Homo sapiens: one gene and its partners. The protein of the gene in region 3 interacts with the protein of the main gene of each other region in a pairwise test. Each region holds a gene or a part of one and is shown on either strand. Other genes may lie near its edges.

The links.
Region 1: the proteins of F11R (region 3) and SLC35A1 interact in binary tests that used the Homo sapiens proteins (3 or more experiments, as listed by UniProt).
Region 2: the proteins of F11R (region 3) and AMBN interact in binary tests that used the Homo sapiens proteins (3 or more experiments, as listed by UniProt).
Region 4: the proteins of F11R (region 3) and LARP4B interact in binary tests that used the Homo sapiens proteins (3 or more experiments, as listed by UniProt).

Annotation. Positions count from the first base shown.
Region 1 is NC_000006.12:87,503,953-87,510,984, reverse strand, and holds part of SLC35A1 (CMP-sialic acid transporter), read right to left. Parts: intron 4,604-7,032; coding exon 4,537-4,603; intron 2,566-4,536; coding exon 2,389-2,565; intron 1,945-2,388; coding exon 1,810-1,944; intron 1-1,809. UniProt on the Homo sapiens protein: Transports CMP-sialic acid from the cytosol into the Golgi apparatus, functioning as an antiporter that exchanges CMP-sialic acid for CMP. Binds both CMP-sialic acid and free CMP, but has higher affinity for free CMP.
Region 2 is NC_000004.12:70,602,240-70,607,804, reverse strand, and holds the end of AMBN (ameloblastin precursor), read right to left. Parts: intron 5,182-5,565; coding exon 5,143-5,181; intron 5,008-5,142; coding exon 4,969-5,007; intron 4,834-4,968; coding exon 4,795-4,833; intron 4,546-4,794; coding exon 4,486-4,545; intron 4,390-4,485; coding exon 4,345-4,389; intron 3,929-4,344; coding exon 3,884-3,928; intron 1,621-3,883; coding exon 1,075-1,620; 3' UTR 517-1,074; downstream 1-516. UniProt on the Homo sapiens protein: Involved in the mineralization and structural organization of enamel.
Region 3 is NC_000001.11:161,018,124-161,024,983, forward strand, and holds the start of F11R (junctional adhesion molecule A isoform 1 precursor), read right to left. Parts: upstream 3,030-6,860; 5' UTR 2,951-3,029; coding exon 2,887-2,950; intron 1-2,886. UniProt on the Homo sapiens protein: Seems to play a role in epithelial tight junction formation. Appears early in primordial forms of cell junctions and recruits PARD3.
Region 4 is NC_000010.11:823,699-830,730, forward strand, and holds part of LARP4B (la-related protein 4B), read right to left. Parts: intron 6,037-7,032; coding exon 5,983-6,036; intron 5,897-5,982; coding exon 5,687-5,896; intron 2,173-5,686; coding exon 2,066-2,172; intron 1,619-2,065; coding exon 1,367-1,618; intron 1-1,366. UniProt on the Homo sapiens protein: Stimulates mRNA translation.

The DNA of each region.
Region 1 (7,032 bases), on a different chromosome or scaffold from region 3:
TGACCAATCATTCAAACCATTGATAATTTCTTAATCGGAGATGAGGCGATAATTTACTGAATAAAACTACATTTCCTACTAGTCTTAACCCTTTTTTCATCTTTTTTTTTTTTGAGACGGAGTTTCGCTTTTGTTGCCCAGGCTGGAGTGCAATGGCGCAATCTCGGCTCACCGCAACCTCTGCCTCCCAGGTCCAAGCAATTCTCCTTCCTCAGCCTCTCGAGTAGCCGGGAGGAGCATGCGCCACCGTGCCCAGCCAATTTTGTATTTTTAGTAGAGACAGGATTTCTCCACGTTGGTCAGGCTGGTCCCCAACCTCAGGTTATCACCCGCCTCAGCCTCCCAAAGTGCTGGGATTACAGACATGAGCCACCATGCCCGGCACCTTTTTTCATTTTAATCTTAAAAATCAGGATGCAAGAAACCAAATCATAACTTGTCCTAACTTGACAAATAAATATATTTATATGACATCAAGCTTTATTTTAGTTCACTCCTAACTAAAAAAGACCAGCTTTGCCTTCAAAAAAGGAGAAGGTAGGATAAAAACTTGTATCTAAACAGTTAACTGAAAGATTGCTAAGACATGCTAGTTGACCATCAGTAAGAACATTAAACAAAAGCATTTTCTACTGTTCCTATATATTTCTTATGAGCAATGGTATAAGGATTTTGTTGAACATAAAGATAGATCAGAATTACAGCTAAAAGTTCACCCAAATCAGGTAGAAAAACATCTAAGGGAAAGCCTATAAGTACCTGATACTGAAATGGTAAGTGGTTGGTAAGTAGTGTCAAACACTACTCTAAGCACTTCACCTGAAAACACCACTAGGCAATAGGTGATATTATTCCCATTTTACAGATGAAGAAAGTGTCACCCAGGGAATATAACTTCCCCAAGGCTGCACAGTTAAGAAATGGTACAGGCAAGATTTGCCACAGACTATACATGGTTTTCTAAAATTTCTACAACACTATTTCCATTTATATACAGGAGTCAATTTTAAAATGAAATGTAAATATAAGCCAGGTCTCTTTTACTTAATATATTTAACAGATATTCTTCATACATTGGTTTATATTATAATAATTGATCAGTAAAGAAAATTATTACACTATAAAAGCACCCTGAAATGTTAAGTCAATATCATTGCTTAAATAATTTAGAAGCCAAATTAATGCTGGGTGTGAGAGTTGGGAAAATTATATTAGGACTAACAAAGCAGTGGTACTGGAATGCCAGCTATATTAATGAGTTTTGTATTAATTACATATTGAATGAAACAAAGATACAAAAGACAAAATCTAGATTTTGATTGTTTTCAAAACCGTCTCACACCCAAATGCAAAGCAGTTGGAAAGTACAAGCTGAGGGAGGACTAAAAGATGTTTTCTACATTCTTCTAAATAATGAGCCAATATAGTTTAAACTGACTGCTGAAAATAATTTCCTAAAGTCTTTATATGTATTTCCTTGAGTACCTTCTCACATTCAGACACTCAAGTTGTCCTATATACAATACCTAAAAATACAGGGAGGCCTTGACTGCAAAAAAAGTCCCCTCACTTTCACATAGAACTAGCACCCCTCGTCTTAACCTCTAAGACCACCTAAACAACCAAAGTACTGCTTAGCCACATCCCACACAACTATGAACAGCTGTACTGGTGGAATAAACTGTAGTAACAAAGCTAGGAATTTCTGTAAACAGTATGACCAACTGCCACTTTTAAATAAGGGATTAAATGAATCAAGGAAATGGGAGGCTCTTCCATGTTAAAAACTCAACACAAACTAAGACATACTTATCTGTAATCCAAACAGCATTACTGAAGCAATGGTGGAAAGGACAATGGCCGCTGCTGCAGAAAAGCCTTTCATGATGTTGTCTGTGTACTTAACCACAACAGAAGTGTAGAGGCCACCAACACTTGCAAGAACTTGTATACAGAGAGAAATAAAATCTTATCACTCAAATAAATGAAACATTACATAATGGTGAGGCAATTTTCATCCCCAGAGATGCCATACTTTACCTAGGAAAAGGAAAATACTGTTTTCCTTAGAAGGAGCCATCTGAGAGTTTGTACTAAAATTGGTAGTTCCTATATAACACTGTTTTTCCAAAACAATGCCCAGAGGGCTATGTGGTCTATTAAATTTTACACATTTTTTGCTAATGTTAGATATTTTGGGGCATTGCTATCCCAAAGCAATTTTGCCTTCACAATCAAAACTAAGTCAACAAAATGAAAATTATATTCAAACTGGTATTTACAGTATCAAAGGATTAATTTCAAAATGTTATAACAGCTTAAAATGGACATCTAACTTAAAAAAAAAATAAAGGATCTACTAAGAACCTTTAATTCCTGGATACTTACAGATGACAAACCAGACATAATATGTGTAACCATAGAAAAATCCTTTTTCTTTAATTTCAGCTCCATCTGACAAGTAGACGCCAGCTAATGTCACAATAATCCCTGATAGATACATTTGAATGTTTCTCACCCAAAGAGAAGTATCTGAACTCTTTAAAACTTTTTCAAAATATACTCCTGAAAGAAAATTAGACATGCAAATATTAAAGATTACTATAAATTAACTTAAAATGTCTTTCATTTAGAACAATACCCTAGAGATATATAAAGTATATGATTTGGGGAACAAAACATACTTTACTTAAATGTGCATTTATTATGTAGGTTGTGTGACACATGACATACTGTACATTATAAATTTATGTTTTTACAGAGTATATAGAATAATAACTAATTGGGAAGTTTATAAGCTACATTTAACAGAAGGCTGTTAAATTAAGACAGTTTCTGCCTTTATTAGAGCAGTAAGACCACAAAAGCTCTCTGTACTACTTAATGCCAGTATGTCATTTGCTTTGGTCAGCTGAAAAACTACATTAAGAGTGAATTATCTTAATCACATCCCTGTAATATCTGCCTACTAATGAATACTCCTAATTCTGCAATATAATCTATAATCACCACTAGGAATCTTTTCAGAGTAACAACCAAAACTGAAGTAGAATTTGCTGTGTAAAGCCATTTTCCTTTAAAGCAGGGTTCCACAAGCCAAGTTCATACACAAGGTCAGAAGGATCATGAACTCCCCAACTGGATAATAAATTTTGTGTATATGTGCATTTTTCTGGAGTTGAAGGTCCATAGATTTTTTCAGATACTTCAAAGGAGTACATGATACCCCTCCCCAACAAAAGTCCCCTATCTCTGGATTTATGCTTAAAATGAATGCATATTTTACAAAGCCATTAAAGATTTTAGTTATAAATATCATGCTAGAGACTTAGGAACTGCCAATGAAGTACTTATCAACTAAAAAGTCTAACGAAAAACAAGATTATTTTTGATGAGTCTGTTGGAATGGGAACATAAAATAGCTATTCTTATTTTCACCTCTGATTTTACCTTCTGGGAGAAGCATTTATCCAGTGCTCAGTTACCGTAAACACAGAGAGATATTAAACCACCCTCCATTTCCTCAATTGTGTATTAAGAGAGTGAACTAATAAAATGTTGGACATAATCATTTAACTGTTCAAAATATTGCAAAAAATCAAATAGCATATTTTTTAGGTAACTCAATTTTTGTTCCCAATTTGTTGGTTTCTAGAACACAATGCTATCAGTAAGTATATTCCTGAATTTAAATTTTCCCCTCGTATAAAACATCTTATTTACAAGCAGTATTTTACTTCTGTATTCAGCCTGCTTTCCTAGTCAAAAATAGTCCTGACTTGAAATAGGTACAAATAAATAATAAAGATGTATAGCTATAACTAATATATTCTACTAAAAGCTTTAAGCAGAATATATTAAAAACTAAATCTCTGCTGGAACTATTTCTAAAACTTTTTTTATGTTACACTTAATATTCATACTTTCTTATCTTGATGCATTGGAGGAGTGCTTGTCCCTACACATACAACGCCAGACTTCCGTGGATTGTTGATGTTAGTGATTTTGTGTTGTCTTTCCTCCCTGTTTGGTTATTAGCTTTATGTATTATGTTTTCTAAGGTACTCTCGACCCACCTCATGATCCTACTCCATAGCTCCTAACCTGTTAAAGCAGAGAAAGAACTTGAGGTTATAGGGGAAAAAAAGATACTTAGCTGGTAACATTAACAACCTAAAGCAGCAGGATCTGACTTGATAGTGGCAGTTCCAGAAAAAAGGAAAGGGCTTTCTGAAGACTAATTTCCTCCATTTTCAGAAGTCTTTTTTCATTTACTTTTGGGTTTTTGGCCGGACTGAGATGGTCAAGGATAACAGAAGTAGTTAACTGCAAGTATGAATAGGGACTGAGTCTGAACTTAGTTGAACAATGCTATACATTTACTGGAAAAACAGCTGACATAAAACTAAATATAAGCAAGAAGATCAAGTTTAATGGGAATAAAACTGAGAAAGCAAGATAAACTAGACTGGTGTCTAAAGTTTGATGTTTTCGAAAAATATGACAAAAGAATAAAACAATGCTTTCATGATTTACCTGCAAATCCTGAGCACAATACAGCAATAGCTATAGCGCCAAACCCTAATAATGGATTTTGTTCCACCTGCAATATTAATTGTTAAAGTTATTTTTAGTGACTAATAAACAGAGTTCATCCAAGAGTCCAAACAAATAAATACAAAAACCTGTTACAGTCTTACTAAAAGTATATTCCACATCAGACACAGCTATTCTACAGAATAAGACAACTAAACAAAAAGACCATTCCAGAAATTAACCAGGGCACTTGGCTTAAGTGAAAAATGTGTCCCTCAAATCACAGCCATAGTATATGCTTAATATAATATGTGCCCACTGTTTCCTAATACCAATAAGCACTCTAGCATGAACTTTTGAACAGGCCAAGTCAGCATACTACTTAATTTTAATTTCTATTATCACTCTAATTTAAGAGCTTATAGCATCAATCCTGAAAATGATAACAATTTAACTTATTTATTCCTCATCACCTACAGGATACAGTGCTGCCTCTTAAGACTCCCCAATTTATTGAATTTTTAGTATACCTTCTGTGTACCAGATACATTGTCTATACACACTGCTGTGGTTTGAATGTCAACTTCAAAACACATGTTGAGATTTAATTGCCGTTCTAACAGTATTAAGAGGTGGGCATTTAAGAGATGATTAGGTCATGAAGGCTCTGTCCTCAAGAAGGGATTGATGCCATTACTGAGGGAATGAGTTAGTTATTGAGGGAGCAGGTTTCTGATAAAAAGGATGAGTTCAGCCCACTTCCCTCTGTCACATGGGATCGCTTCTGCCTTCTGCCATAGAATGAGCCTCACCAGATGCCAGCACCGTGTTCTGGACTTCCCAGCCTCCAGAACCATGGGCCAAATAAACTTCTGTTTTTTATGAGTTACCCACTCTGCGTATTCTGTTATAGCAGCAGAAAATGGACTAAGATACATACTAAATGAATAAAGAAGATTACAATACACAGCTCTGTTATGTATAGGCAAAATTGACAAGTATATATAACCAAAATAGTGTGAGACCAGTGCTCACAGATCCAAGTATATGGGTCCTAACCCTCTGTTTCACTTTATTTTCTCTTTCTTTTCTAAACTGTCAGGAGCTTTCATCAGTCTTTCCTGAAAGATAAATACTATCTCAATAGTATCACTGAAATTAGAGGGTTGAGATTCATGACTGTAATATGACAAGGAAGTATATACCTTGTTCAAAATAAATAAGCCTGATATAAGAAAAGTGCCACTTTATGGTACCTGAGAGAGCAAGCTTGGTCTAAATTGTTTGCATGAAGATAAAAGGAGAAACAGAAGACACTGTAGACCAGTGGTTCTCAAAGTATGGACCCTGGATCAGCAGCAGTGGCACCACTGGGGGTTTGTTAGAAATAAAAACTGTCAGGCTCTACCCCAGACCTACTGAACCATAAACTATGGGAATGGGCCTAGCAATCTGTTTCAACCAACCTTCCAGTTGATTCTGATGTACGCTAAAGTTTGAGAACCACTGCTATAGACTATACATTATTAACAAGTATACTTTCCTATAATACAAATTTCAAGACTGGCATAGATAGAATAAAATCATAGTGTGAGATACCACCTATCCCAACATCTGCTGGGAAGCTCCAACTGCTAAAAATAGAGTGCCTGATAAATTCTTGACTTAGTTTCCTGCCAGTTGAATGTCTCTACAGTTAGGAAAAATAGTGATGGAAACAGCTTATCTGGACTTGATTCTGACAAGAAACTGCTGGGTGATGAAGTAGATGTGATGGGAACTTTGGCAGAAAGCAACCATGTGATCTGAGCATGAGCCAAACACAGCACAGTTAAGAGACATGTGCTCCAGTCCTGAATAAATCAAAACTCAAAAATGTAAAACTTCAAGTTAGAATTCCATGGCTCGTGAGAAGAACATTCAAGAGAGATTAAGAGTTACTGAAGAAGGAGGTTCTGGTGAAAAGTAAAAAAAAGAATACATAAGGAAATCAACATATCTAAATAAGGGCATCTTCACTGAATTCTGATTTTACAAGAACAAAGCCGAAGTACAGATCACCAAGAGGAATCTAACCAGGAATTTAAGAATAGTATCAAGAAATCGAAAACTCAGAATAAGTGGAGGCTTGCAAAAAATCCTGTAAGGCATTAAAGAAAGCTTTTTTTTTTTTTTTTCTTTTTGAGACAGGATCTTGTGGTATAATCATGGTTCACTACAGCCTCAACCTCCTCGGCTCAAGTGATCCTCCCACCTCAGCTTCCCAAGTAGCTGGGACTACAGGCATGCATCACCACATCTAGCTAAGTTTTAAATTTTTTTGTAGAGACATGGTCTCACTATATTACCCAGGCTGGTCTTGAACTCCTGGGCTCAAGCAATTCTCCCCGCCTAGACTACCTAGCTAAATAAATTTAAAAGACTATCAAGAAAAGTAGGTGAGTTAGTGTATATAAAGCATTTAGATAATGCTAGTATTTAGTGCATTATAAATGA
Region 2 (5,565 bases), on a different chromosome or scaffold from region 3:
CATGACACCCACATGGCTCTTTTTCTGTTTCTTCCTCTTGGAGAGTGAGGGCTCTCGCTCTTGAAACCGTTTCTAGAAACTGTTCTGAGAAAACTTGTCTGATTCCTCCTAGACTCTCCGATGACCCTCAGGCTGGGTTAGGCACTTCTTCTCTGTGGCTCCAGGGGCACCCTGTGCTTGGCCTTTTCATAGCACTTTTCACATGTGCTGTGGGGTTGAGTGTATCTATTTCACAGTATTGTTGTGGGATAATATATGTAAAGTAATTGAGCTTGGTCTAGGGTTTTGTTATGGTGATTGTCTACTTGTCAGTCATGTCCATTGTAAGCTTTGAAGGAAGGGACTGTATCTTTGATACCTTGCACTGCACCCAGGACATGAATATTCAGTAAAATTCTGATGAAAGAATGAATGAATTGAATACAATGAATTAAAGAGAAGCAAAGGTAGAGGATGAGTATGCTTTTCTTGAACCATTTAAATCTATATAAATAATAAGCATACAATTCCTGATAATTTCAGTGAGAAAAATTCTTTATTTAAAATAGGCTAGATTTTTTATACTAGATTAAATAAAATACTCTATAAATGAGAATTTTAAATTAAATTATACCAAACCCAGTAATACCAGTCAGGAGTTTTCCACCAATCCCCATTTAATAAAGTTTAAATGAATTAGCTTAGAATTATGAGGATATTTGCCTTTGCTTAGAGAAAAAAGCAGTGCCATGTTTCCTGAATATAATAGTGTCATGCTGGTAAGAGAAATTCTATAATGCTTAAGACAGCTAAGAAAAAGTGATGATCAAATGCTGAGACCCTTAGAACCTTGCTCTGATGTTATTAATAGTGTTTCTAAATCACAGAGACAATTGACACATTTTATTTCAACAAGATATTGAAAGCAAGAAGGGGACCTACACTATTTCTAGCCACTTGCATTTATTAATATATGCTTAGCGCTTTTAATGCCTTTGCTGCAGAAGGGTAATAAGTGTTTTAGCAAAAAGGTACACTGTGGGGACAAAGCTGGGAAGCTTGTGCATACAGAAAGTAGCTAATATCTTAGAGCTGTCAGGGCTCTTGGAAATGCCATGCGTCATGCATCATCTCGGGCTCCTGGGCTTTGTTTCCTGGCATGGATGTTTGCAGAGAGTTTGGGGCCATCGTGGTATCCATGGTTGCTTCTTCCTGGAAATCCACGGATGTGGTCATGTCAGCATCGTAGGTCCTATAAACATCAGCTAATTCAGGGGTCATCAGTGGGTCAGCAGCTGCTGGGGTGACGCTGGGGAGTCCCTTCATCTTCCCTGAAGGGCTCCTTGGCAGGCCGGGAATGTCATCCTTAGGGAGAGCAAGGAGCCCTGCGTGGGGAGCAGGTTCTAGCTCTGTAAGGAAAGCTGGGTTTTCTAGATTGTCTGGGTTGGCCTCCGGCATAGGGGAGCCTTGTGCACCTCCTTCTTCGTTCTCAGGGCCTTTGGTGGCAGCCACTGGGGAGTCAAATTCCAGAGTGAAGTCACCGCCCATAGCTGGGTTGTGGGGCATTCCCTCAAAGCCGGGCCTCATGCCTCCAAATCCTGGAAACATGGCTCCATAGGCCATTGGGTCTTCTCTCCCGCCCTGGAAAAAAAAACATTCGTCAAAGATGCCATCATCACATGCTATTAACTATACCATGCAGCTATACCTGGTCACATTCACCAAGGATCTCTAAAAAACTGGTGGAGAATAGGAAGTTGGCTGATTGATAGCTTTGTGTAAGCTCATTTCTCACTAAACTGGCTTTGAAACATAATGAAGAGGATTCTGCACTTATCTGGGTGGATCTCGGCATGATTTCCGTAAAAGGGAGATAACAGGGCAGAAGCAAGACTTGAGGCAAAGGTGAGTTTGAATTTAATTTTAAGAAAACAAGCAGTTGAAATGAGTACTACCATCACAAAACAAATAAGAACTGAAATTCATAACTGCATTTGTTGAGCGAGAATCTTGTCAATGGCATTTTTCAGTGTCCCCCAAATGAAGTTCCATGTACTTTTTTTTTCTTTTAGGGGTCTCATTATACGGCCCAGGCTGCTGGTCTAGAACTCCTAGGCTCAAGTGATCTTCTTGCCTCAGCCTCCCTAGTAGCTGGGATCACAGGGGTGAGACACTGCACCCAGCTAAGACTTTAATTTTTTTAAAGCACAAAGTTTAAGAAAAAAAATGTGACTTCCCTGGAGTAACTAAAATATTTTCTTCTTGTGGACAAATAGAATACCAGCACTGACCATGTTTCTTTTTCTACCTTTGCTGCCAGAAATATGGGGTCCAAAATCTTAGGCTGTTTGTAGCAATTGAGCAGGCCTGTGTGACTTGCATATCTGTATTCTGATTTTCTTGAAATTATGACTCATTTTAAATCCTACTTTCAATTTTTTGTTATATTTATTGTGTGTTTTTCATAAGCTCTACAAAATCTTTTGGGAATGAGGCAGAATAGAAATAATTAATACTATGTGATGGCAATTAACACTTACTTGAATTTTGAACTTCCAGCCACTTGTATTGGTGCTATATAGATACAATACTCTTTCCTTCTCCTTTCTCCTGACTCTTCATTCTCTCTCAGCTTTCACATCATCTCCTCCAGGGATGATACTGTGAATCCCTGGACTGGGCTAACTGCCCTTCCTCTCTGACTCTTTCTCTCTAATAAAATTGTTATTACTTTTAGCCCATGATTTTGACATTAGGTATCTGCCCTTGTACCTATCTTTTCCATTCATTAGACTGTAAGTTCCTTGAAAACAAGACTTTTTTTTTTTTTTTTAAGGCAGGGTCTTGCTCTGTTGCCCAGGCTGGAGTGCAGTGGCGTGATCTCAGCTCGTTGAAACCTCTGCCTCCCAGTTTCGAGTGATTCTCCTGCCTCAGCCTCCTGAGTAGCTGCGACTACAGGCTCGCGCCACTAAACCTGGCTGATTTTTGTATTTTTAGTGGAGACGGGGTTTTACCATGTTGGCCAGGCTGGTCTCAAACTCCTGATCTCGGGTGATCCATCCGCTTCAGCCTCCCAAAGTGCTGGGATTATAGGCATGAGCCACTGCGCCCAGCCAAAAACGAAAATCTTACCTTGTCTTGTTTACAGTATTTTCCTATGTGTGTGGCACATGGAAGGCACACAAAAATACTGAGATGTAATTTTTCTTTCACAGATAATATGTGTGTGTGTTTGTTAACTTGACAGGATCTGTAGTTGACAGTGATTTGTTAATTCAATATAGCTTTTGTTTTGTCTTGCCTTGTGCTCTAACAGATGTAACAGGCAAAAATTTTCTTAGGGAAAAAGTCAAGTTGTATGACTTTATTGATCTCAAATCTTAAACTTGCATGGATAATGATAACATAATAAGAGTATATGCTCATTGACAATGCACATTGACATTTATAATAATCACATTTTAAACTTGGTTTTCTTTTGCTTTTTGATCTTTCAATTTTGAGATCTGAATTACTTGTAATGCTGTTGAATTTGATGTTTTGAGGGGTTAAATGGTCCCAGAAAGAACAAGAACTCTGTATGAACCACGTGTATCCTTTTGGTTTGAAGTGTTTATAGTTCAATGACGGCCTTTCAAGGGGAGTTTTCTCCTCTGTTCATCTACAAGCAATGGGGCAAAACTCTATGCTCAAGAATAGTCATCACCCAGAAATGAAAGATTACATAGGAAACATGATGAAATCTTTGGATATTGCTTCAGAATTAAGCTTAGTTTTTGGAGTGGAAAAATCTGAGTCCCATGCTCATTTGGCTACATTCATGGCAGACGTCTCTTGCAGCCAGTCATAAGTGACTGTTCTTCCCTGGCCACTATTTTAAGAAGAGTTAGAAGACATTACTCACTGCCACTTCTTCTGAACTCATGATGCCAAGTCTGGCAGGGGCATTCTGTTCAAAAAGAAATATTGCGTCAAATTACGAACCAGCTACCTTCTTATCTACTCAAGACAAAGTTAAAAGTTATTTAGTTTTCACTTAAACCTTAATATTAATGCTGTGTACAGAGGCAAAGTGGAGAGGTGAGTCATTATGGAATAAATGTAGTCAACTCGGATAATTCAGATCTAAAATTTGTTTTTTCTTTAATACCCTTGTGTGCGTGTGTGTGCGTGTGCGTGTGTGTGTGTGTGTGTCTGGCCAAGATTATCCAAATAGGAAGTTTGCCTCCTTAATATTTCAGTACTAATGTAGGTGTTCAGAGAATGTTTATTTGGAATCTCTTGTGTGAGACCTAGATTTTTGAATTTTAGCTCTTAAGATAAAATTTAATTAAAAACAATACTTTTTATAGAATATGGACTTACCAATTGATTTGCTCCAAAAGGCACGTACAACATTCCTGGATAAAGCTAAATAAAATACAATCATTATCACAAAATGCATTTTCCAATGGAAAAACTTTTAAGTAAATTGCAAACAGAGATGTGGTATTAAAAAAAACTTACTGGAGATTGTTTATTTTGTGGCATTGGTCCGTGAGAAATCAAACGGGCTATTTGGAAAATCTTTAAATGGTAGAAAACAGAATAAGTAATTCTCACAGGCACATCCCCATAACAGTAATTTTTGAGGTATATGAAACACATTTTCAGATGGATTAGTATAGAAAATAAGTATTTAATATTTAAGAGAACAAAGGAACCCATTATACTTCATATTCATGGATAAATGGGACAATGAAAAAATTCACTCTTATTTTTTGAAATATAGAGACAGTTTTTGCAAGACAGTGTCTCATTGAGATCTGTACTTACTGTTGAACCTTGTGGATCAGCAAAATCCAATCCTGGGAGCTATATTACAGATAAATATTAAAATTATCAGTCAAAAAAGGAACAAAATAGATAAATGCAAATAAAAGATAGACAAAGTGAACAAATAAAAATAAAAATAAAAAATAGAAGTGTCTCACTGAGATCTGTACTTACTGATGGACCTTGTGGATCAGGAAAATCCATTCCTGGGAGCTATATTGTAGATAAATATTAAAATTATCAGTAAAAAATGAACAAAGTAGTTAAATACAAATAAAAATAAAAAAGTGAACAAATAAAAATTAAAAAATAAAATACAGAAAGTGTCTCATTGAGATCTGTACTTACTGATGGACCTTGTGGATCAGCAAAATCTACTCCTGGGAGCTATATCACAGATAAATATTAAAATTATCAGTCAAAAAATAAACAAAATAGACAAAGTGACATTAAAAATAAAAAAATAGACAAAGTGAACTGATCACATCCTTATCTTGTTTACAATTACAATAAAACAATTAAAATGAGTTTCATTATTTTACTTTCTTTTAGTGTTTTGGGAGGTATGACCCAAGAGTTTGCAATGGTCTTTTACTAACATTACTCAAATGTACCTGCAGGGAGATGAGGCACATCTATCATGGCTTTGCTATCTCTTGCAGATTAGAAAGTAATGAATTTTGGAACTGGAACATACCTGGTTGGTTTGAACCCTGGCTCTGCCACTTAATTTTTGTGTACTCCTGGGCAAATTTTGTAACTTCTCAAAAT
Region 3 (6,860 bases):
GGGAAAGGGAGGCTAGTACTCTGGGTCATCAGTTTTACTTTTCCCAAGTCCAGCTCTCCCAGTGTCTACCCTCTGGATCTCTGCCCCACAGGGTCAGGGTTTCCCCTCCATTAGGTTCCCCAAGCTGGGGCCAGGCCTTTGCCTGACTTGTCAGTCCTATCTTGCCTTTTCTACTTCCTCCCTGACAGCAGAGCCCACAATGAAGAACAGGGAGAACATATGGGCAACCTATCCACGCCTCTCAGGGACAGTGGACAAGCTAGACACCCAAGAAAAAGCTCCTGCTTTTTGATTTCTGACTCTAGCCATTTGGGATCTCCCTGCTTCCTTTTTTACCTACTCAGCTAGGGACAGCATTCTGGCATTCTTCCATCCTCACAAAATCCACAGGGGATAACAGCTGCCCAAAAATAATCCCTTCATGTATATGTAATGTAACTATTATGCTGGTTGATCCTCCTGACAAAGGTGGGACAAGTATTACTGCTATTTTACAGATGAAAAGACTGAGCTACTGCCTAAGATCACAAACAAGGCAGAGAGAAAGCCAAGCTAGAATGCAGGTATGGTGGCCCAGCTCCCATTTCCATCCTCATTTGCACTAACCAAATCACTCCCCTCCCCCAACCCAACCCCAGATCTAGCCTGATTTAAAAGTTACAAGGTCAGTTCCTCCATCCCCTGGACAAGTCACTTCCCAGGACCCACTGTCCTAACAGGCTAATGCGACATCATCTCAGGTTCCCTCTGCACTACTGTGGCTTGGTTCCCTGAAGACACCTCCAAGCTCAAAATGGTGTTATCATGACCTTCCAGTGCCAGTATATGATTATTTTAGGATTATCATAAATAATATAGGAAATTAGAGGGAGAAAAAAGAAAGGAAGCAGTGGCAAAGGATAGGGAGTAAGCAGCTCCAGGAAGCTTTTAAGCCTGACAAATACTGTCACAGACAAACACTGTTACAAATACAGTCACTCACACAGAAGAAACTTCTGGGCTTAGGGGAAAAATACTGGCACAGTACAAAGGTTGGAAAAACCTTTAGTACCAGAACCACATAACCAAAAATTGACTATGGGTGTCACTAGCAGTTCTAAAATACAGGCAGAAGTAAAATAGGCAAGGGGTAGGGAAAAAAGGGAAATTAAAGAAAAGGGAACTCAAAGAGTAGAAAAAAAGGAAGACATGGCCAGCCGCGGTGGCTCACACCTGTAATCCCAGCACGTTGGGAGGCCGAGGCGGGTGGATCACCTGAGAGCAGGAATTCAAGACCAGCCCGACCAACATGGTGAAACCCCATCTCTACTAAAAACAAAAAATTAGCCGGGCGTGATGGTGCATGCCTGTAATTCCAGCTACTCGGGAGGCTGAGGCAGGAGAATCGCTTAAACCCGGAAGGCGGAGGTTGCGGTGGGCCAAGATGGCACCATTGCACTCGAGCCTGGGCAACAAGCGAAACTCTAACTCAAAAAAAAAAAAAAAAAAAGAGGGAGACATGAATGAAGAAGCTAGTGGGAAAGTAAGTTTAAAGGTAAGTAAGACAGTAGATTCTGAAGCAGTATCCCAAACAGTTCTTGTGCTATAGGGTGCCTGAGATGCTGGATCAAAGAATGGAAAAAGGAAAAGCAAGTCAAGAGGGTTTGGTTCCATTCCCAGGTTCCACCCCTAACTCTATTGTCATTGAAGTCATTTCCCCTTTTGGACTTGTTTCCTTATCAGTAAAATAGAAAGAGGATGATATATGCCTCTGGTCCAATCTCTCCCAAGGGTTTATGTTGTGATAAGGTAGAAATGAGCAGTCAATCCATCTAAGGGCAGGGAATCTACATACACCAAACTGATTGTAATCATTCATTTAACACTTTCTAAAACAAGAACCTTGGGGGTGGGGGGAGACTCATGTAGAACACATACTGACACAACTACTCACACAACGACACGCACACTCAAGAATCAGATAAACACACAGGTACTGCCACAGGTTGACTAACGCACAAACCAACCGACTAAACGCTCAGCCCCACACAAACACATCTAGAGACAGAGGCATGCCCTAGCAAGTGAGCCTCATTGTTCCTCAGGAAAGGGAGTTTACAAAGGAAACAAAAACTCTCATACACAGCCAGAGGGAGGGCAGAGCTCTGGCTCTGATGAGAATCCAGCCAACCAACAGATACACTCTCCCCCTGGGAAGAGTCACTCAATCAACAACACGTATTAAGGACTCCTGAGGTAGTTATTCCATAAAGGAACTTCGCTGGAACCTCTGCTGCGCTTAGAGAAATTTCAGGTTTCTATTGCATTTCCTCTTTAGACTGTGCACCCAGACATTTTCCCAGAGCAACCGCCGCAATTCAAAGATTCAGAAGAGCCAGAGACTCCTTCAGCAAAAGCTAGGGGAAGAGACTTCCACCCCAGACCACCTCCATTTGATTTTCTTCGAAGACCGTTAAAGGAGCCAAGGCTCCCGGCTGCGCAGCGGGGTTCGTGGATGCTGGGTGGCCGTTGGAGGGGCAGGCTGGCCCTTCCCAGGTGCGTGTGGAGCGCGCGCTGGGTAGATGAGTGTGGAAGGGTCCTTGGCCCGACGGCCCTCTCCAGTGAGGACGAGGAGTGTACCTCTGGTGTGTGCAGATGGGTCAGCTCCCTCCTGGTGGCCGTGAGGGGTGCGGTCACAACTCACCAGTGTGGGGGAGGGGAGCCAGCCACTCACCCAGCTGTGAGAGTGGTGAAAGAGGGACCAGCCAGGGGTGGAAAAGATAATTCGCAGAACGATATAGGAAGGTTTCTGAGCTCCTCCCCTCCCGCGGGCTAGGGGCGTGGGGAGAGCCTTCCTCCAACCTCTGACCCGACCAACCGATTCCTCCCGAAACTCTGGGAACTTACACAACAGGATCGCCAATATGAAGAGGCACAACAGTTTCCTCTCGACTTGCGCCTTTGTCCCCATCGCGATCAGGCTCCCGACACAACAGCCGCCGAAGGACTCCTGGGAACAGACACAGCTCCGCGACTACAGCGAGGGGACTGAGAGCCAGCCGCCAGGTGGAACCCCGCCCGGCCCCGCCCTCCGCGCCTGATTGGCCAGCTCCCCACCCCTGCACGTTCCGATTGGTGTAAGGAACCGCTGCTCTTCAGAACGAGTCACCTCGGCCAGGTGTTACCCCGCCGCCACTCCCCGCCTCGGCGCACTGGCGCCTTTCCCCACAGGAGCTGCCTCAGATTGGCCCAGGAGACTGTCGCGTCAGGAGACGAATTCCGCACCTTCAGCAGGTGACGGCCCCCTGATTGGTTGGTGTTCCCGAAGTAGCGACTTCCTGACTGGCTGGGTTCTCAGTTGGAGCTAGAGGGCTGAGAAGTACCTCTAAGGAGGAAGTAGGAAAGGCAGTCGTGGTGTGGGATTTACGGAGACCGGCTTGGCTTGGGGTTTTGTGTTTGTTTGAATGTAAGTTGCTTGGTGCAACTGCACCTGCAGTTTGGTCCTGCAGAAACTTTGGTCCTGCCTCTTGGCAAGTAAAAAACAAATATTAATATGGGAGGGTAGGGGAGAAGACCCGGAGAGAAATGGAATGTTACTTTGGCACCACCTCCAAACTGTTCCTCTGTCCACCCCACCGGCTTTGAGAGATGAGCTACGCTGGGAGGAAGAAAGGGGAAAAAAAAGGGAAAGGGAGCACTCAACTGGAAAATGGGAGCCTGGGCAGTATAGTCCCAGCTACTTGGGAGGCTGAGGTGGGAGGATGGCTTGAGCCCGGAGGCGGAGGTTGCAGTGAGCCTAGATCGCGCCACTGAACTACAGCCTGGGCGACAGAGCCAGACCCTGTCTCAAAAAACAAACAACAACAACAAAAATTTAAAAACCCACAACAACACAACTTGGGAAGAGCAGAATTACGTTATCTCAAGAAGAAAGTTAAACAGATGTACACAAAACACACCCAGATGATACAAACTGAGCTGAACATGCTCTAGAAACATCTCTGGGTGACTGGATATGTCCTTTACACATATTTGATCTGTGAACAGGTCCCTACATTTCAGAATTGTTTGTTTTCTCACTGTGACTAATAGTTGTGTGCTGACTAAGCCACCTTTTTTCTATAGACAATGTTGATACTCAAACTTTCTGTTAATATTTATATTGCTACATCATTTTTAATTGAAATTCATGCTCAACACCTTTGCTAGTTGTAGTTTCTATTTTACGATGATTTAATTTTAACTGTACTAAGCATATGCAGACTGTGGGGAAAAAACTTCCTTAGCATTACCTCATTGCAAGGGAAAAGACCACATTTTTATCCAAAAGAATGATATTGTTTGACATTTTGCCTTTTTCACCTTTGCTCTCATTCCTTTGTCCCCATCTCTTTGGCCAAAGTTCTGCTTCTGGTTCCATTCAATTTAAACCACCTACTGGGTGCTTAATAGTCTTGGCCGGGTGCGTGGCACACGCCTATAATCCCAGCACTTTGGGAGGCCGAGGTGGGTGGATCACCTGAGGTCAGTCTGACTAACGTGGTGAAACCCTGTCTCTACTAAATACAAAAAAAATTAGCCGGGCGTGGTGGCACATGCCTGTAATCTGAGCTACTTGGGAGGCTGAGACAGGAAAATCGCTTGTACCTGGGAGGAGGAGGTTGCAGTGAGCTGAAATCGCGCCATTGCACTCCAGCCTGCTGGGCATCAAGAGCGAAACTCCGTCTCAAAAAAAAAAGAAAAGAAAAGAAAGAAATTTAAAGTCTTGGAGAAAGGTATATACACTGACAGCTGGGCTCTGTGACGTGTGCCTGTAATCCCAGCTACTCAGGAGGCTGAGGCAGGAGGGGAGGATCACTTAAGGCCAGGAGTTTGAAACCAACCAGGGCAACATAGGGAAAAGACTCTGTGTCTAAGAAATTTTATTTATTTATTTATTTTTGAGACGGAGTCTTGCTCTGTCGCCCAGGCTGTAGTGCAGTGGCGCGATCTCTGCTCACTGCAAGCTCCGCCTCCCGGGTTCACGCCATTCTCCTGCCTCAGCCTCCGGAGTAGCTGGGACTACAGGCGCCCGCCACCATGCCTGGCTAATTTTTTTTTGTATTTTTAGTAAGACGGGATTTCACCGTGTTAGCCAGGATGGTCTCAATCTCCTGACCTTGTGATCCGCCCGCCTCGGCCTCCCAAAGTGCTGGGATTACAGGCGTGAGCCACCGCGCCCAGCCTATTTATTTATTTTTATTTTTATTTATTTATTTGTTTTTTGAGACGGAGTTTCACTCTTGTTGCCCAGGCTGGAGTGCAATGGCGCGATCTCGGCTCACCGCAACCTCCGCCTCCCGAGTTCAAGCGATTCTCCTGCCTCAGCCTCCCTAGTAGCTGGGATTACAGGCATGTGCCACCACGCCTGCTAATTTTGTATTTTTAGTAGAGACGGGGTTTCTCCATATTGGTCAGGCTGGTCTCAAACTCCCGACCTCAGGTGATCCGCCCACCTCGGCCTCCCAAAGTGCTGGGGTTACAGGCATGAGCCACCGTGCCCGGCCTTTATTTATTTATTTTATTTTTGAAACAGGGTCTTGCTCTGTTGCCCAGGCTAGAGTGCAGTGGTGCAATCATGGCTCACTGCAACCTCCACCTCCTGGGCTCAAGCAATCCTCCCACCTCAGTCTCCTGAGTAGATGGGACCACAGGCGTTGCCACATCCTGCTAATTTTTTCTTTCTTTCTTTCTTTTCCTTCCTTCCTTTCTTCCTTCCTTCCTCTCTCTCTCTCTTTTCTTTGTTTTTGTTGTTTTGTTCTGTATACACGATGTCTTGCTATGTAGCCCAGGCTAGTCTTGAACTCCTGAGCTCAAGTGATCCTCCCACCTCAGCCTTCCAAAGTGCTGGGATTATAGGCGTGAACCACCATGCCCCGCCAGAAAATTAAATTTAAAATTTTTTTTAATAAAAAATTAGCTGGGTATGGTGGTGTAACCTGTAATCCTGTACTCCGGAGGCTGAGACAAGAGAATCACTTGTGCCCAGGAATTCGAACCTGCAGTAAGCTATGATTGCACCACTGCACTCCTGCCTGGGCAAAGGAACAAGAAAGATCCTGCCTCTTAAAAATATAAAAATAAATAAAAATAAATTTAAAAAGCATGCATTCACAAATATAATAATAGCCATGTTACACTATTGAGTTATATTCAATTTACAGCATACTAAAATGGGTAAGCCCTTTATTTTCACTTGAACTACTGTTAAATTGGGTCTCCCACATCCTATACTTATGCATTTTTTTTTTCAGATGGAGTATTGCTCTTGTTGCCCAGGCTGGAGTGCAATGGCGCGATCTTGGCTCACTGCAACCTCCGCCTCCCAGGTTCAACCGATTCTCTTGCCTCAGCCTCCCAAGTAGCTGGGATTATAGGCCACCACGCCTGGCTAATTTTGTATTTTTAGTACGCGGGGTTTTTCCATGTTGGTCAGGCTGGTCTCGAACTCCCGACCTCAGGTGATCCGCCCAACTCGGCCTCCCAAAGTGTTGGGATTACAGGTGTAAGCCACTGCGCCCAGCCGCATTTCTTTCTTAACCAAAGTACATTTTGCATTGATCTCTATTCAATTTTATATTTTCTGTTTTGAAAATATTAATAATGGACAAGTATACATGAAATATTGTTAATAACTAAAATGAAAAAAGTAAATACAAACAGTGTGCACCTCAGTTATTACTATATAAAACATCTGCATATACAGTTACAAAGCATGAAGGTATTTTAGAGCATGCAAGTAATTTGATGTTCATCAGATTCTTTTTCCCATAAAGTTGCTTAAATGTATAATAAATGTTAAAATTTCATTGTCATTGACATTTGTTTTCCATAGTCCTTCA
Region 4 (7,032 bases), on a different chromosome or scaffold from region 3:
GAGCCCCAGCTCTGCAACCCTCCTCCCTCCAAGCGTCTGGGTCTTAAGAACCCCAAACTGAGACCCAGGGCTAGCAACTGCTCCCTGAAGTCACTGACTCTCCATGACACGGTGGGCCCCTTTTGGCTTTGCATCTCCAAGGCCTGTTGAGCCAACCTGATGCCATGTTTCCTGTGAGACACAGGCCAGTGCCAGCTCTCCCAGACCATGGTGCCTTCCAATGCCACTGCACAATCCCTGCAGGAACTCCTATGTGCTCATTGAATCATTATGGGCAGGAATGAGATGCTTCTGATGCCTCTTCATGTTGAATTCTCACTGCACAGAGGGTGTGCACTGTGGCAGGCAGGAAGAGGAGCTTGCACGTCAGGGATGGTGCTGTACACATTGTATATAGAACACCCTGAAAAAGCTCAGGTATTTGAGTCACTTGTTTGTCACTTATGAGAGGAAAATCCTGACGGTCCTTACCAAGGCAAGGACTGAGAAGATCAACTGGCCTTATCAACAATGGGCAGGTGCGGTGGCTCATGCCTGTAATCCCACCACTATGGAAGGCTGAGGCAGGAGGATGGCTCTAGGCCAGGAGTTCAAGACCAGCCTGGGCAACACAGCGAGATCCTGTCTCTACAAAATATTTAAAAACTAGCCAGGCATGGTGGTGTGCATTTGAAGTCCTAGCTTCTCAGCATGCTGAGGCAATAGGATTGCTTGAACCCAGAAGTTCAAGGCTGTAGTGAGCCATGATCATGCCAACGTACCCCAGCCTGGGCAACGGAGTGAGACCCTGTCTTAAAAACAAACAAACAAACAAACAAACAAACAAAAACCTACTACAGGATTGATGCCAAAAAAATGTTAAACAAAACCAAAAATGGTGGGCAGGAAGCACAGCTAAGACCCGTCCTGGCTAGTCTCAACCCTCCAATGAGATGAGACTGCAATGCTGATCTGCCTGGTTACCCGCTCCAGGCTCCACCTGCAGTGCCTGGTGCACACCCAGCTGGAGGGCGCCAGGCCAGCAGCCATGGGGCAGAGCCTGGACACCGCCCTTGCAGAGGGGCCTGGTGAGCCAGGGGTGCTGCCAAGAGGAGACTGCAGGCACATGGGATGGAGTCTATGGCTATTGAGCTCCAGTGTTTCTACAAATAATGATCTAAAACAACTACAGTTCTCACTGAACCATTTCATATTCCAAAAAAGATGAAGCCATTTAAGTCTTAGCAATTATATAAAACCCTTATGTTTATAGCCTTCAGTTAGATTTTCTGTGACATATTTAAAGACAATTACAAAACATATCTAAATTAAATAATTTTTAAAATATTAGTTTATGATGTTACACAGTAACTGCTCAACAACTCACCTTCCCCTCCCTAAACCAGGAGAGGATTCGAGACTGCCTGGCTCCACACGCCCAGGCCCAGCCTCTCTCTTGGCATATGCTGAAGGGTTTTGAATCCGTGTTCTAGTTTGACCTGCTTGCCTTGTTTGTGGACTCCGGACACCATTAATTAATCGATCTGCAGTGAAGTTAAATATTGAAGGACTTTCTAATAACCCAGGTCCCCTCTCTGCACTAGGAATCGCATGCCGCAGATGAGATTTACTAGGATTCCTGTAAATAAAAATGGTTTTATGTGTTGAGTTATAAAATGATCAAGGCATTACATAACATGCATACTGACATGGAATAGCTAAGCTGAAATCTGCTCTCTGTTTAATAAAGTATAAAAATAGGATTTGGAATGGTTAACTCCTAACATATAGGATAATGCAAATCTATTAACAATGTGCCACAATTCTGCTTAGCTGTTTTTCAGTCCAGGCCCAAATTAAAATCAGGCACACCTGATGTGTACAAGTTGCCCCAAAGCCTCCTCTCAGAGAATCTGAGGCGGGCACCCATGCCAGATTGTAGTGCTTAGTCTTTACAGAATGCAGCTGTGTGCTTCAGGTGGCTCTGTCTGCGAGGAGCAGGACTAGTGATCAAAGCTCTCTCATCCCAACTCCGGAAGGGCAGTAGCGTAAAGACCAAAACTGCTAAGACCGCCCCGGAACTTGCCTGCTTCGAGGAGGATACTGTCTGAGAGAAGTCAGAGGAGACGCCGCAGGCTTGAACGCTGGAGACGTAAACCCATTTATAAATCCAGTATTTGGAAATGGAGTTACCTAGATTCATTTGAAAACAGACAAGTAAATAAACCATAAAACAGACTTCAATTTCATTAATACCAACAAATCTGTGGAAACTGAGGGCATTTCTTGATGTTGTCAGAGTCATGACCCATGCTGAGACATGTATTTTACAATTTTATCACCAATGGGTGCTGTTTAGAAGTAGGCTGGAGCTTTTGTGCATCCTTTCAGCCAATCCTTACAACAATCCAGCGAGGAGAACTGACACATGCGGAAGCAGGCACTGAGAGGAAAGACGTGGTCAAGAGCGCATGGGCTCCAACAAGTGTTGTAACCTTTAGCATGTCAGTCTGATACGACCTCCATCACTGGCAGGAAGTCAACAGTTCTTGATTCCTGATGGCTTTAATACAACTCATCAACATTCTCAATCTTAGGAGCACCTGCACACCCACTGCTGCTCACTCGGCTTCATCCAACCACAGCCTGACAGGGCCTTTACCTTTACCCCGACACAAGTCCTGCTCTGCAGATCAGGGTATTTTCAGATCATCATTATTCCCCAAGTCACAAGGTAAGTATGGCATGCAAATATACTAACATAAGATTCAGAAGAAATTAGAAAGGGTCACAGAACCCCTAAAAGATCTTAAGTAGTTAAAAATATTGAGCATAGAATTTTAAGTATCGGCCAACTATTTTTAAAATCTAGACACATACAAAAATAAGATAAAACTTATTGTTAAAACAGTTCCTTTAAAAACAAACAAACAAACAAAACTCAAGACCATTCATTCTAATTCTCTGGCTTCTGGACCCATGGTTTCCAATACGTTCTGCATCACTGATATCTCGCTCCTTATGCTCCTGACACAGGGCACTTAGTTCCTGAGGGCCTTCCAGTCCACACCCTCAATGTCACTAAAGTGACAGAGATACGCATAGAGCCCTCCTTGTTTGGAGGAAGAGAGAAAGGAAAGGAAAAAAGCAAGTAATTCTCCTTAATTAGAGCTAACTGGAAGATATAACAGAAAAAGAATATTATAGCTTAGGACTAAAATAAAATCATACAAAAGGGAAGTTAGAATCTTCAATTTGCTACTTGAGAAACTCTTCACTCTGTAAGAATCGGACTTTTTAAAATACATCACACATGGCCGGGCGCAGTGGCTCATGCCTATAACCCCAGCACTTTGGGAGGCCAAGGGGGGGCGGATCAAAAGGTCAGGAGATCAAGACCATCCTGGCTAACATGGTGAAACCCCGTCTCTACTAAAAATACAAAAAAATTATCCGGGCGTAGTGGCGGGCGCCTGTAGTCCCAGCTACTCAAGAGGCTGAGGCAGGAGAATGGCGTGAACCCGGGAGGCGGAGCTTGCAGTGAGCCAAGATCCGGCCACTGCACTCCAGCCTGGGCGACAGAGAGAGACTCTGTCTCAAAGAAAAAGAAAATACATCACACTTGAAGAGCCATGAATGCAGACCTGGATCTGAGGCTGTAAATCATGGGCAGAGCAATGAGGACTAATCATTTCCAGCAAGTCATTTTACAGACAGAGCCCTGATATTCCAGTAATTTTGCTCAAGATAAAAAATAAAATTGGTCATATATAAAAAATAAAGTTGATTATTAATGCGTTCCTATTATTACTTGTTGGGGATTAATAGGCACAATCTCTTCAGCTGCAGAACAAAGGACGCACATGTTTTAGCACAAGTAAAAGGCTGCGATGGAGAGCCCCAGTATCACAGACTCAGAGCAGGACCAGCTGTCTGGCACACACCGCAACCTGAACATACAACATAAGTCAAGGCCATAAGCTGACCCAGAACCCCAAGGATCCCCGAGAGGGTCAACCATGATTAAAGAAACGGAAGAAGCAACTGCTGCAGGAAGAACTGAAAGGACTAGCATGGCAAGCCACGTGCAGCGATGATTCTTCAACACCCAGAGCCTACGGACTCAAGTCTCTCTGAGGTTCTCTCATGATATGCTTTTGGGAAAACGAAGTATTCAGCTATGGGTACACTTTTATAGAATGTGCTACTTCAAAAAGCCAGAAACTTTTCTTACCATCAGGACTTACTCAAAAGAGACAGAAGTAACTTTACCAAAGGTTCTTACACTGCGGTGGTTCCAGACTCAGGGGGAATTGGGGTCCTCTGAAAATCTCTCCCTGTCCCCACCTGCCCTTCACACGGCCTTAGGAGCTATTTTCTAAATGGAGTATGGTTTCATTTCTCCGCTTAGAAACCTCAGACACCTTCCCACAAGCACTAGGCCAAAGCCCACATGCCTCAGGACAGCTAAGCACCTGCGCAGTTAGGCCTGGAAACTGCCAGCTCGTTCCCCAACTCCCTGCCACCCGGTGTACGCTTCAGCTCAGACACCCATGAATCTACGACCATCTTCTGTTCATGAAACTTCTCTTTGATTCCTTCTGAAAAACTCATACTTAACCTGAAAAGCTCAACCTAGATGACAACACAATCCCTGATAAGACCTGTCAGTGTTCTGGCATTCTGTACACGTGTCTCCTTGGCATGTTTGACTTTTCCAGCCTGAGTTGTTTCATGGACCCGTATCTTTACTTTCCGTGTATACAGGCACTTGTTTTCTCAAGTTCTCTCTGCTCTGCACCTACCCTCCTTTTCTGCCTGTCAGCGGTGACATCCCTGCACATCAGGGTGCCTGGCTCCCAGCCATCCGACCCTGAGGACCACTCAGTCTTTCCCTTAGTCCACAGCGAAACCCTGGACATGAACTCTTCTCAAAGTTACTAACTCAATTTCTGCTTTCTGACCATAACCTTCTATGTATGCTACCCTTCAATCTCTCCAATTCCAACTAACCTGCATTGCTACCTCATGCAAACCTCTAGGCCATGAACCCATCTTCACTTCTCAACTAGACTTCAGCTTCAAGGACATGCTCATCCGTGTATTGCTGACTCTCGTGCATCCAATGCCACCAAACTCATGCTAATTCCCACCCAGAATGCACTTGATCTTTCAAGCATCTATAGCAGCACACAAAGAGACAATGTCTAGATCCAGTACAGACTTATGAATTCCAACCATAGGCCTTAACAAAGGCCAAAATCCATAAAAATTAATCCTGTCGACCAACTCTAATGCTGGTGAGAAGTGAGTAAAATAAGGCTGGTAAAACAGCAGGCCTTCTCCTTGGCCTTGCTGTCAGAAGCCTATTAAACACCTCTTCCTCCTCAGTTAATCCCCCTTGCATTGTACTCTGTGTAGGGGACGCCAGGTACACTACAGCACTTATCGCCCTCTGCGTCTTGCTAAGAGCTGCATGACAAGAGGGGAGACGGGCTGTGCAAGGATTGTGCTCACAGCAATCCAAAGTTCTTTATGCATAAGCTCTGTTCTCAGCTACATTTAAAATCCCCCACATAACTTGAAGGTCTGTTTTAGTATGTCAGACTGCACACATATCTGGCTTCCTATTAGATGAGGATTTTAATCCTTCAAATTATCTAGCATAGTGTCTACAACATAAATTCCTAGTAAAGAAATGACGTACCAAGGGTGGGTCAAGATAGCTGTGCGTTGCTGACCACGTCTGGGGAGTGATCAGGCTGTACAGGGGGAACTGCTGCTGGGGGCTGTACATGGGAGGGAAGTAGAACGACGTCGCGTAGCGCTGCTGGGCATACAGGCTCACGTCCAGGGGTCTAAATCCATTCTTTGGCAAAAATGTGTTTATAGCTATTGCCTTTGCTTTTATCCGTGCCTGTTTGAAAATATGTAAGTTTCTATTAGAATACTTAAGAACATCAATTTGCAAATAAACAAAGTATAACCAATGGTCTTGCTTACCTTAATTGGTTTTCCTTGAAAAGTTTTGACTTCTTCTCGAAGGTATTTGTAAGCCTAAGGGCAAAATTAAGTACAAAATTCCATTCGATTAACCTTATGAATAAGAGGCACCAATAGTTCACTCAATAGCTCAAATAGGGAAATATATAATTAAATTATGGTGAACAGAACCTAGAATAATGATTCTTGACACTCCCTGGGTCACAGATCCCTTAAAATAACCTCATAAGAGCTATGGAACGTGTACCCCAAATTCTCACAAACAAGATTTGTACACAATTTTGTAAGTATTAACAGATGCCATAGAAGTCTCCCAAAGACCACTGGCTAAGAACCTTGACCTGGTGGAAAATGATGAATACTGAGTTCCTAGTATTCATCCCAATTTCAGATTAGGAGAATGCAGTTCAGGAAATACCAGACAGGAAGGAAAAGGATTAGGATCATAACATCCAAAAGTCATTCTTGATATATCTCCTTGTTCTTCTCCATGTTAATTCTACATTAAACCCCTATAAAACTGTGAAGGCCCTGCACCTGATTCAATATCATCCGACCACATTCGCCACACGGGCTGGCAGAGCTCACACTCCACTCCACAAAAATGGTTACTCTATCTTCCGTTCCCCTTTTCCCCCTCCATCCAATTAAAACCCATCTTTCAGGTTTCTGTGTTTTCTTTTCTGAACCCCACATACTGTTTATACCATTTAACACTTTATAATATGTGCGTTAGTTTCCTCACAAATAAGATGCTTCCCTTAAAAGCAGGAAAACTACTAACTCCTCACGCCTCCTTACAGAGCTTACTTCTCAATACCATTAAAAGCATCTTCCAAAATACAATGAAGTCTGCTGGGAGATGAAGATTAGGTTCAAATTTCCCCCCAAACACTTTGCAAATAGTAAAACTTCTCTGCCCAGATAGAAGAACAAAACTGATTTTCCTAGGTTGCTTAGCTTGTTGTCCTTAGAAAGTAAAATCACATGCTTTTTATATTGCTATAAAAATTGTCCATACAAATACACTCAAATATTTAAGTTTCTACA